2 separate regions of the Homo sapiens genome follow, and region 1 is linked to region 2. The links come from fine-mapping of genetic effects on gene expression. A gene starts in region 2. The other region holds a variant in brackets. All regions are shown on one strand. Distances are between the middles of the regions. Region 1 has its middle 7.7 kb from the start of ZNF843. Region 2 holds the start of TGFB1I1 (transforming growth factor beta 1 induced transcript 1).

Region 1 (5,369 bases), 21 kb after region 2:
AACCCTGTCTCTACCAAAAATATAAAAATTAGCCAGGCATGGTGGCACGTGCCTGTAATCCCAGCTACTTGGGAGGTTGAGGCAGGAAAATTGCTTGAACCCAGGAGGTGGAGGTTTCAGTGAGCCAAGATCGTGCCACTGCACCCCAGTTTGGATGAAAGAGTGAGACTCCGTTTCAAAAAAAAAACAAAAAAAACAAAACCAAAAAATAAAAAAACACATCAGCTTGACATTTTGGAGGCATTCCCAGACTCAGGGTTAGTCAGCAGATTAGCATTTAAAAGAAAGTCTTGTCCCTACAGATTCCCTGACCTCAGCTACCCATGAAGGGTGGGAAGAGGAGTCCTTAGCAAGAAGTCCAGGAAGTTGACAACCTCCTCAGACCTGATAGGACACTCCTCTCTCCACCCTGCCTCCTGACTGATTTAATCTCAGGGGTGTGAGGACCTCTGAGATAGGCCCCAGGAGTCTCACCCGCACCACTTATGTCTCAGGGCTAACCAGAGACTCCCTGAAACAGATCCTAGAGGATTCCCAAGTGATAGGATAAATAGAGAGGTACTGAGACTTCCTGGCGTGGGTGACCTCTCCCAGGCTGGCCAACCTCCCCCATTCAGAAATTTGCTGAGCACCAGGAGTGAATGAAGTAAAGGAAGCCCCTAGGAGTTCAAGAAGCAGAGATTTCCAGGTCCATGCACCAAAGCTCATGTGCTCAATTCTCAGGAAAGGCCTCACTCAGTTAAAAAATTTTGTATCATGAAAGGGTAAATGAATTAATTAGTGAATCTGGTTTCTAAGCCAATGGCTTACTAGAAATATTATAGTAAATCAGAAAAAAAAAAAAAGGCGGTGGCTCACACCTATAATCCCAGCACTTTGAGAGGCTGAGGTGAGAGGATGCTTTGAGCCCAGGAGTTCGAGACTAGCCTGGGCAACATAGCAAACCCCATCTCTAGAAAAAATTAAAAAACCAGCCAGGTGTGGTGATGTTCACTGTAGTCCCAGCTATTCAGGAGGCTGAGGCAGGAGGACCGCTTGAGCCCAGGAATTTGAGACTGCAGTGAGCTAGGATTGTGCCACTGCACCCCAGCCTGGGCAACAGAGTGAGACCCTGTCTCTAAAAAAATAATTTTTTTTAAAGATAATTCTTCAAAGGAGATCCGCTCTTCCTTTCCTACACCCATTCCCTTTCCTCCCTTTCCTGAACAATGCTGTCTTACAGCCTCTAGGGGCAGGCAGAGCCAAAGAGGCCTCTGCCGGGTGTGGGGAGTGAGACGCAGCAGGCCAGAGCATGTATCAGAGCTCCAGCAGGTGGGGGAGGGTGTCCACACGAGAAGGTGGCCTGGCTTGGCATGGCAGAACCTGATAGGATTAGGAAGGCATCAGCCACGGGAAGGAGATGGCGAGAGAGATAAGAAACTGCTTCCACCAGCTATTGGTCAAATAAGTACACATTTGAAAGATAACAGCCAGGTTTCTCAGTGTCAGAGAAAACCGAGACACAGCTCGGGAAAGGGAGAAAATGTGGGTGGGGAGACCCTTGTGGTGTCGAATTGGAACTGGAGGTATAGGAGTAGACTCAGGATTTTCAGAAAGTGTTTAGATAGACATAGAAATTAGTATGGGTGTGTATATGTGTATGTGCACGCAGATGTGTGTAAATGTCCATATATTCCCTAGCTCTGGAAAGCCCTGGAGCAGTGCCATCCCAATAACAAAAAGCTTTTTATGGTTTTTTGAGATAGGGTCTCTCCCTCACCCAGGCTGGGGTGCAGTGGTGCGACCACAGCCCACTGCAGCCTCGACTTCCTGGGCTCAGGTGATCCTCCTGTGTCAGCCTCCCAAGTAGCTGGGACTACAGGCATATGCCACCACACCCAGCTAATTTTTAATTTTTTTTTTTTGTAGGGACGGGTCTTGCTACGTTGCCCAGGATGGTCCTGAACTCCTGGGCTCAAGCAATCCTCCCACCTCAGTCTCCCAAAGTGCTGGGACTACAGGTGTAACAGTTTTAAGGTAATCAGAATCAAGAAATGATTGAGGTGATGCTCTGGAATAATGGGGACTAGAGAGTCGTGACAACTAAATGCAATGTGTGGTGTGGTAGCATTTTTCTGGGCTGTAGTCCCTAGATGGGTAGAGAAGAAAGCCCCGGAGAGGGTGAAGAGGTGGGGATGTGGAAGACGTCAGAGAGAGCACAGGGCAGAGCGCAGAGAACTGCATCCACAGGCCTCGCCATGCCCCCAGCATGGCTGCACCACACCAGCAGATGCCTTCGCTTCCCAGCAGTGGACACAGGTCACTGGATCCTCACAAATGAGCAGCCAGGAGAATGTTTGCAGCCTGGAGATTCGGGGCTTTGTCAGCACCTTGGGAAGGTTTTGTTCTTGGGTTTTGGGTTTTTGGTTTTTGGATTTTTTTGGTAACAATATCGCTATATTTATTCTCCTGCAGTACACTTTTAAATTGCTTCAACATTTTCCCCTTAAAATAAAAAAGAACAACAACAAAAAAATTCCAAACCTTAGAATTGAAATATTTGGCCTTTTCTCTCTCTCTTTTTTTTTTTTTTTTTTTTTTTTGAGATGGAATCTCGCTCTGTCGCCTAGGCTGGAGAGCAGTGGCGCGATCTCAGCTCACTGCAACTTCTACCTCCTGGGATCAAGCGATTCTCCTGCCTTACCCTCCTGAGTAGCTGGGACCACAGGCGCATGCCACCATACCAGGCTAGTTTTTTTTTGTTTTGTTTTGTTTTGTTTTGTTTTGTTGGTATTTTTAGTAGAGACGGG[G/A]TTTCACCGTGTTAGCCAGGATGGTCTCGATCTCCTGACCTCGTGATCCGCCTGCCTCGGCCTCCCAAAGTGCTGGGATTACAGGTGTGAGCCAGTGCACCTGGCCTTGGCCCTTTCTCTTTTTATTTCCTCGCAGTTCTCTCCCTTTTTTAAAAAAAATAATAATAAATTGAATTTATAAATAGAGGCAAGGTCTTGTTATGTTGCCCAGGCTGGTCTCGAACTCCTAGGCTCGAGGGATCCTCCCACCTTGGCCTCTCAAAGTGCTGGATTACATGTGTGAGCCACCCCACCTGGCCCCAGCTCTCTTAATTGCCAGCACTCCTCTTGGAAGTCCCTCATCTTGATTACCTTATTTAAGGTCACCTCCTCACAGGCCCTATCTTTTTTTTTTTTTTTTTTTTTTGAGAGGGAGTTTCGTTGCTTTTGCCCAGGCTGCAGTGCAATGGCGTGGTCTCGGCTCACTGCAACATCCATCTCCTGGGTTCAAGCCATTCGCCTGCCTCAGCCTCCCAAGTAGCTGAGATTACAGACATCTGCCACCACACCTGGCTAATTTTTTGGAATTTTTAGTAGAGACGGTGTTTCACCTTGTTGGCCAGGCTGGTCTTGAACTCCTGACCTCAGGTGATCTGCTTGCCTTGACCTCCCAAAGTTCAGGGATTACAGGCGTGAGGCACCATGCCCAGCCAGTCCCTGTCTTCAAATACAGTCACACTGGGGGTTAAACAATGTATAAATTTGGGGGCGATACAAACATTCAGTCCATAACACCCCCTATACCCCAACCCTAGGCAACCACTAATCTACATCTTATCTCTACAGATGACCTATTCTGGACATGTCATATAAATGGAATCATACAATGTGTGGTCATTCGTGTCTGGCTTCTTTCATATAGCATAATGTTATCAAGGTTCATCCACACTGTAGTATCTCATTTCTTTTTATTAGGAATAATACAGTTTCACTTTATGGATTGCTGTGGTTTGAACCTGTCCCCTAAAGTTCATGTGTTGGAAACTTAACCTCCAATTCAACTGTTGAGAGGTGGGAACTTTAAGAAGTGATTAGGTTATGTGAGCTCTTCCCTCATGAATGGATTAATGGCATTATTGCATGAGTAGGTTAGTTATCAAGGGAGTGGACAGCTGATAGATAAATGGATGGGTTCTGCCCCCACCCACCCCCTCTCTTGCACTGTCTTGCCCTTCCGCTTTCTGCTGTGGGATGAGGCAGAAAGAAGGCCCTCACCAGATGCAGGGCCCTTGACCTTCGACTTCCCAACCTCTAGAACTGAAAGAAAGATATTTCTATTCTTTATAAATTATCCAGCCTTAGGCATTCTACGATGCAGCACAAAACAGACTAAGACATGGATATGCCACTTTCTTCAATCATCAGTTGACAGACATTTGGGTTGTTTCCACTCGGGCTATTATGAATAATGCTGCTATGAATACTCACGTACAAGGTTTTTGTGGAATATGCTTTTATTTCTTTTGGTTACATATCTAGAAGGGAAATTGCTGGATCATATAACTCTATGTTTAAACATCTGAGGAACTGCCAGACCATTTTCCAAAGTTAATGAATGATTTTACGTTCCAACCAGCCATGTGTGAGGGTTCCAATCTCTCCACATTCTCACAAAAACTTGTTAATTAACTGTCTTTTCAGCTTTTTTTTTTTTGAGTCGGAATCTCACTCTGTCACCAGGCTGGAGTGCAGTGGCGTGATCTCAGCTCACTGCAACCTACGCCTCCCAGGTTCAAGTGATTCTCCTGCCTCAGCCTCCCAAGTGACTGGGATTATAGGCGCCTGTCACCACGCCCAGCAAATGTTTGTATTTTTAGTAGAGACAGGGTTTCACCAAGTTGGCCAGGCTGGTCTCAAACTCCTGAGCTCAGGTGATCCGCCCACCTCGGCCTCCCAAAGTGCTGGGATTACAAGTGTGAGCCACTGCCTGTAAATATTATCATTTAAAAAATATCATTTTTAAAAATATTATTTAAAAAAAAAATTTTAATGTTTTTTAAATATTATTTTTAAAAATAATAATAATGTTATTATTATTTGAGATAGAGTCTCCATCTGTTTCCCAGGCTGGAGTGCAGTGGCGTGATCTCAGCTCACTTCAGCCTTCACCTGCCAGGTTCAAGTGATTCTCCTGCCTCAGCCTCCTGAGTAGCTGGGACTACAGGCACCCGCCACCATGCCTGGCTAATTTTTTGTGTGTTTTTAGTACAGACTAGGTTTCACCATGTTCACCAGGCTGGTCTCGAACTCCTGAGCCCAGGTGATTCGCCCACCTCAGCCTCTCAAAGTGATGGGATTACAGGCATGAGCCGCCACTACTGGCGTAATTACCTGTCTTTTTTATTATCACCATCCTAATATGTATGATGTGGCACCTCGTTGTAGTTTTGATTTGCATTTTTCTGAGGACTAATGATGTTGAGGATCTTTTCATGTAATTATTGGCCATTTATATAACTTCTTTGAACTGTCTATTCAAGTCATTTGCCCATTTAATTTTTTTTCTTTTTCTTTCTTTTTCTTGAGACAAGGACTCCTCTG
Region 2 (5,369 bases):
CATGGTGTCTAGGCTGCCCTTGCCAGTCGGCTCTGGTGGGGATGGGGAGCCCTCATTTGTGGAGCTCACCACCGGTGGCTGAGTTGGCCCAGAGGCTGGAAGCTGCAGCGGGGAGGACATGAGAATTGAGTCAGCAAAGCAGCAGATGTGGAATTGTCTAGAAGGGGTTGGGGAGCCACAAATGGACACTGGCCCACTGCCCAACTCACATGGTTTTGAACGCGGAAGTCAGAGAGTGAGGCCATCAGTCTATCCAGCTCCAGAGTGGCTGAGGTGGCAGAAGCCTTTGGGAGGCCAGGAGACGGGCTGGAAGGGCTGTGAAGAACATGCTTGTGTCATCTCAGAGCCTCCCAGAGCAACGCTCCCTCTAGTGACTCAGATATCCAGGACTCATCTCTCAGCCCTGACAACGACGCCAAACTCACAGGCTGGGTCTTTTCTTATCTTCAGACTGGTCCTCCTTCTGCTCTCCTGAAGCCACCTTGCTAGATGGGAACTGAGACATGATTTCATCTGGAGAGAGGAGAGGAGGACGCTACATATAGGGCCATGCTCAACGCACCCTCACACTTGAGGCTTTAGGTCCCTTTAACTGCTACTCTGGGAAGTGTATTCCTCTTAGTCTCTGCCCCACCCTTCCCTCCCCTGCCCCTATCGCATCAAGGCCTCTCTCAGTCACCCTGGTACCTGTGATGTTGAACTGAGTGGCATTAAGTTCCTGAAGCAACCGATCTAGCTCACAGAGCCCGGTACCCAAGACACCGCTGGAAGAGGAGAATGGAGGGGCCGCCGGGGCTGCAGGCTTTGGGGACCGAGGCTTGCATACCGTGCTGGGAAGCAGAGTGGGAGCCTGGGTTCAGGGGTGGGGAATCCAAGCCTCCTCACCTGAGACTCAGTTGGCCCCCATGCCCTGGTTTCCAGGCCCCTCACCTGTACAGGTGGTCCTTGTCCCCCGAGGCTCCTGAAGACTCCCCAGACCCTGTCTACAGAGCGGAGACGCACAGGTGGGATGACAGGCCTGCACTCTGCCCCACTGAGGCTGAGATCCCCATAGACCAGGCCGAGCCTGGCCCTAGTGGCTGCCCCAGTCCCCAACATCCGATCTCACCTGTGGCTGGTGGCCATAGGATGGGGGAGGGGTGAGAGGCTCCGCAGGGCGCTCTTTGGGAGCCCCTGACCTTGGCATGTGCGAGGTGGTAGTCTCCAGGTCAGAGAGCAGGGCATCTGCAGGAAGAGGCCATCAGGGAGAGAGACAAGGGTCACGGTTAGATCAGAAGATAAGGTTCCCAGTGGGCAGTACTGGAGAAGGACAGAAGCCAGTATTAAGAGAAGAGGTCACAGGGCCAGAGCCAGGCAGAGCACTGCTCGAAGGGTAGCAAGGAATATTTATGACCAGAATATCCCAGTTGCTCACGCTTGGAGCCAAGCACAAACCCAGCCTCCTGATTATTTTATTCTCCCCATCTTCTCTGATGCAGTCAAAATGGGCTCTTCACCCAAGCCAAATTTGGCTCCCCTCCAAATTGCTCCATTGGCCCAGTGCCTGGCCCTCAGCTTTCTGATTGGACGCTCTCTCTTCCATGCTGGTTAACTCCTCCCTCTACCTACACAGGCCCCGCCCAGCCTGGCCACTCCCAGGCCCCTGAGTCCCGCCCTGGGCTCCTCACTGGCGCTTCGCTGGGACCTGCCTTCTGATTGGCTGTTTATCTGCGGTACAGCGTCAGTTACCCCTACCGAGCAGCGCCCTCTACCGCCAGGGGCCGGAAGCCCCTCTCTCCCGTGGAGCGCACAGCCTTCCAGCCCCAGGCTTCGCAGGGAGGACGAGATACCTGGGTCCCCCTTCCGGACAAGACACCTCTCTCCATCCCTGCATCCCCAGATCCGGGTCTTTTGAGCCCTTTCACTTCCAGAACCCAGAAGTCCTGCCCTCAGTCTTCGTCTCTGAGCACCCGCGTGAAACCCTGAAGCCTTCGCGGGCGCCTAGGCACTCCTGAGTTACTATTCTCTTCCTTGCCTCAAGGACCTGACCCTCACTGTGCTCAGGAGCCCTTAACTCCTCCTCTCCCAAAACTCTGGTGCAGGCAGGCCCGCTTTTTTTCTCCAAAACTTGATGCCAGACTTTCCCGTGCCCTCTACTTTCCCGGTCCCCGGGCCGAGGCCCCTTTAACCCCTCCCTCCCCAGAGCCCCGCGCCCGGGCGCCCGCGGGCGCCGCACCTCCCGTTCCATCTGCCGCAGCCTGGGATGGAGGAGCACAGCGAGGGAAGAAGGGAGGGAGCGGCCGGCCCAGGAAAGGCAGGAAGGGAGAGGCAGGAAGGGGGACGTGGAGTTGGAAAGGAGGCGCGGGCAGAGGCGAAAAGCAGAAGTAAGAAGACAGGGATGGGGAGATGCGGGAGAGCGACGGCGGGGAGGCAGCTCTGGGCAGCGGTGAGGGGCCACGGACCCGGGGATCCGGCCCCACTCACCCAGGTCCTCCATGGCGGGGCGCGGGCCGGTGGCGCGGGGCGAACAGGGCGGGGGCCGTGTCCGGTGGGGGCGGGGGGCGGGGGACGTCCGGGAGCTGGAAGCCCGGCCGTGACCATGTAAGGAAGCCGGGACCCGCTGAGATGGGGATGGGGGGGCGATGAACGGGGGAACCCGAGGTGGGGGCGTGGAAAGGAGGGAGCGCCCCGGCCCACCCGAGCCCAGCCCGCCGGCCTGCCGCGGAGGCGGCCACACCCCAGCCTTGGCCTCAGCTGCAGGGAGCCCCAGGAGGCCAGAGCCAGAGAGAAGTGGCTTCTCCAGACCAAGCCCCAGAGCCGCTCCCTAGGGAGACTTACAGACACGGACTGAGGCCCCCAAACAGACACCGCTCAAAGCTAGCGCCTGAGTCCTAGACAAGAGCCTCCCTCCCACCCATGCCATTCCTGGGAGACTTGTCCCAGACGGAATTTTTGGATTGGTAGCAGGAGTGATATTCTAAGGCTCAATTAGACCTCAGGTTCGGAGACCCTCCCATCGGAGACCCTGACAGATAAATAGAGGCCCCAAGAGGCATACATACCAGACACAAAGAAATCTGAGGGACGGGGACAGACACAGTGAACCCACCCACAGACTCTACACTAGGACCTTCCCTCCAAGACTTGGTCATGGACACACGTAAACTCGAACCCGGGCGCAAGCCCCTTGCAAATTCGGGGAAAACACTCCCAGGCAACCAACCCCCAGCCAGCCTGCAAGACAAAGCCCTTCCTCAGCACTGAGGTGGCCCAGGCCTGCTCTGAAACAGCCCTTTCCCAAGTTACTGATGAACTCAGAGCAGAAAGCAAGACACAGTCTCCAGCCACAAAGTGGCAAGGCCTTCCCTGGACTGAGACCCTGAGAAACGAGGTGGAAACGAGAGGCCATAGAGGTAGTTATGGACAGACAACTGTGCTGCAGCCACTCTTCTGGACAGATCTGAGCACTGGAATGTGAGTATCAACCCAGCAGCAAATCGGAACAACCTGGGGAGCTTTTTAAAAATGCGAGACAGGCATGGTGGCTCACACCTATAATCCTAGCACTTTGGGAGGTCAAGGCGGGCAGGTCACTTGAGGTCAGGAGTTCGAGACCAGCCTGGCCAACATGACAAAACCCCATCTCTACTAAAAACACAAAATTAGCTGTGCGTGGTGGTGGGAGCCTGTAATTCCAGCTACTTGGGAGGCTGAGACAGGAGAATTGCTTGAAACCTGGAGGCAGAGGCTGCAGTGAGCTGAGATTGTGCCACTGAACTCCTGAGCAACAGAGGAGACCCTGTGTCAAGAATAAAAAAGAAAAAGAAGAAAAAATGGGCAAACGACCTGAATAGACAGTTCAAAGAAGTTATATAAATAGCCAATGATTACATGAAAAGATCCTCAACATCATTAGTCCCCAGAGAAATGCAAATCAAAACTACAATGAGATGCCACATCATACCTATTAGGATGGCAATAACAAAAAAGACAGGTAATTAGGCAAGGAGCAGTGGCTCACACCTGTAATCCTAACACTTTGGAAGGCCGAGGTGGGTGGATCCCCTGAGGTCAGGAGTTCGAGACCAGCCTGGCTAACATGGTGAAAACAGTCTCTACTAAAAACACACAAAAAAATTAGCCAGACATGGTGGTGGGCACCTGTAGTCCCAGCTACTTGGGAGGCTGAGGCGGAAGAATCCCTTGAACCTGGCAGGTGGAGGCTGCAGTGAGCTGAGATCGTGCCACTGCACTCCAGCCTGAGCAACAGAGCGAGACTCCATCTCAAATAATAATGATAATATTTTAAAGGCCAGGCTCAGTGGTTCACGCCTGTAATCCCAACACTCTGGGAGGCCGAGGCGGGCGGATCACCTGAGGTCTGGAGTTGGAGACCAGCCTGGTTAACTTGGCAAAACCCCGTCTCTACTAAAAATACAAAAATTAGCTGGGTGTGGTGGCAGGCACCTGTAATCCCAGCTACTCGGGAGGCTGAGGCAGGAGAATCACTTGAACTCGGGAGGCAGAGGTTGCAGTGAGCAGAGATTGTGCCACTGCACTCCAGCCTGGTGACAGAGTGAGATTCCGACTCAAAAAAAAAAAAAAAAAAAGCTGAAAAGAAAGAGGTAATTAGCAAGTTTTTGTGAGGATATGGAGAGATTGGAACCCTCACACATGGCTGGTTGGAATGTAAAATCGTTCACTAACTTTGGAAAATGGTCTGGCAGTTCCTCACATGTTTAAACATAGAGTTATATGATCCAGCAATTTCCCTTCTAGATATGTAACCAAGAGAAATAAAAGCATATTCCACAAAAAAACTTGTACATGAGTATTCATAGCAGCATTATTCATAATAGCCCGAGTGGAAACAACCCAAATGTCCGTCAACTGATGATTGAAGAAATGAAAGTGGCATATCCATGTCTTAGTCTGTTTTGTGCTGCATCGTAGAATGCCTAAGGCTGGATAATTTATAAAGAATAGAAATATCTTTCTTTCAGTTCTAGAGGTTGGGAAGTCGAAGGTCAAGGGCCCTGCATCTGGTGAGGGCCTTCTTTCTGCCTCATCCCACAGCAGAAAGCAGAAGGGCAAGACAGTGCAAGAGAGGGGGTGGGGTGGGGGCAGAACCCATCCATTTATCTATCAGCTGTCCACTCCCTTGATAACTAACCTACTCATGCAATAATGCCATTAATCCATTCATGAGGGAAGAGCCCACATAACCTAATCACTTCTTAAAGTTCCCACCTCTCAACAGTTGAATTGGGGGTTAAGTTTCCAACACATGAACTCTGGGGTACATGTTCAAACCACAGCAATCCATAAAGTGAAACTGTATTATTCCTAATAAAAAGAAATGAGATGCTACAGTGTGGATGAACCTTGAT

The links. PIP is the estimated chance that this variant, and not a neighbour inherited with it, causes the effect.
Region 1: its variant is fine-mapped to the expression of TGFB1I1 in lymphoblastoid cells (GTEx, PIP 0.99).

What each region holds. Positions count from the first base shown.
Region 1 is chr16:31,447,821-31,453,189 of GRCh38, reverse strand. No RefSeq gene overlaps it. Among named protein-coding and RNA genes, the nearest start is that of ZNF843, 7.7 kb to the right of the region's middle. RefSeq lists enhancers at 1-507, 1,088-1,382. The variant G/A (reference allele first, on the strand shown) is at 2,790.
Region 2 is chr16:31,469,296-31,474,664 of GRCh38, reverse strand. It overlaps TGFB1I1 (transforming growth factor beta 1 induced transcript 1), which reads right to left and starts at 2,513. Exons shown (of 11, transcript NM_001042454.3): 1 at 2,464-2,513; 2 at 1,109-1,224; 3 at 931-983; 4 at 688-830; 5 at 426-513; 6 at 210-315; 7 at 1-102. The coding sequence starts at 2,476. RefSeq lists an enhancer at 1,634-2,174.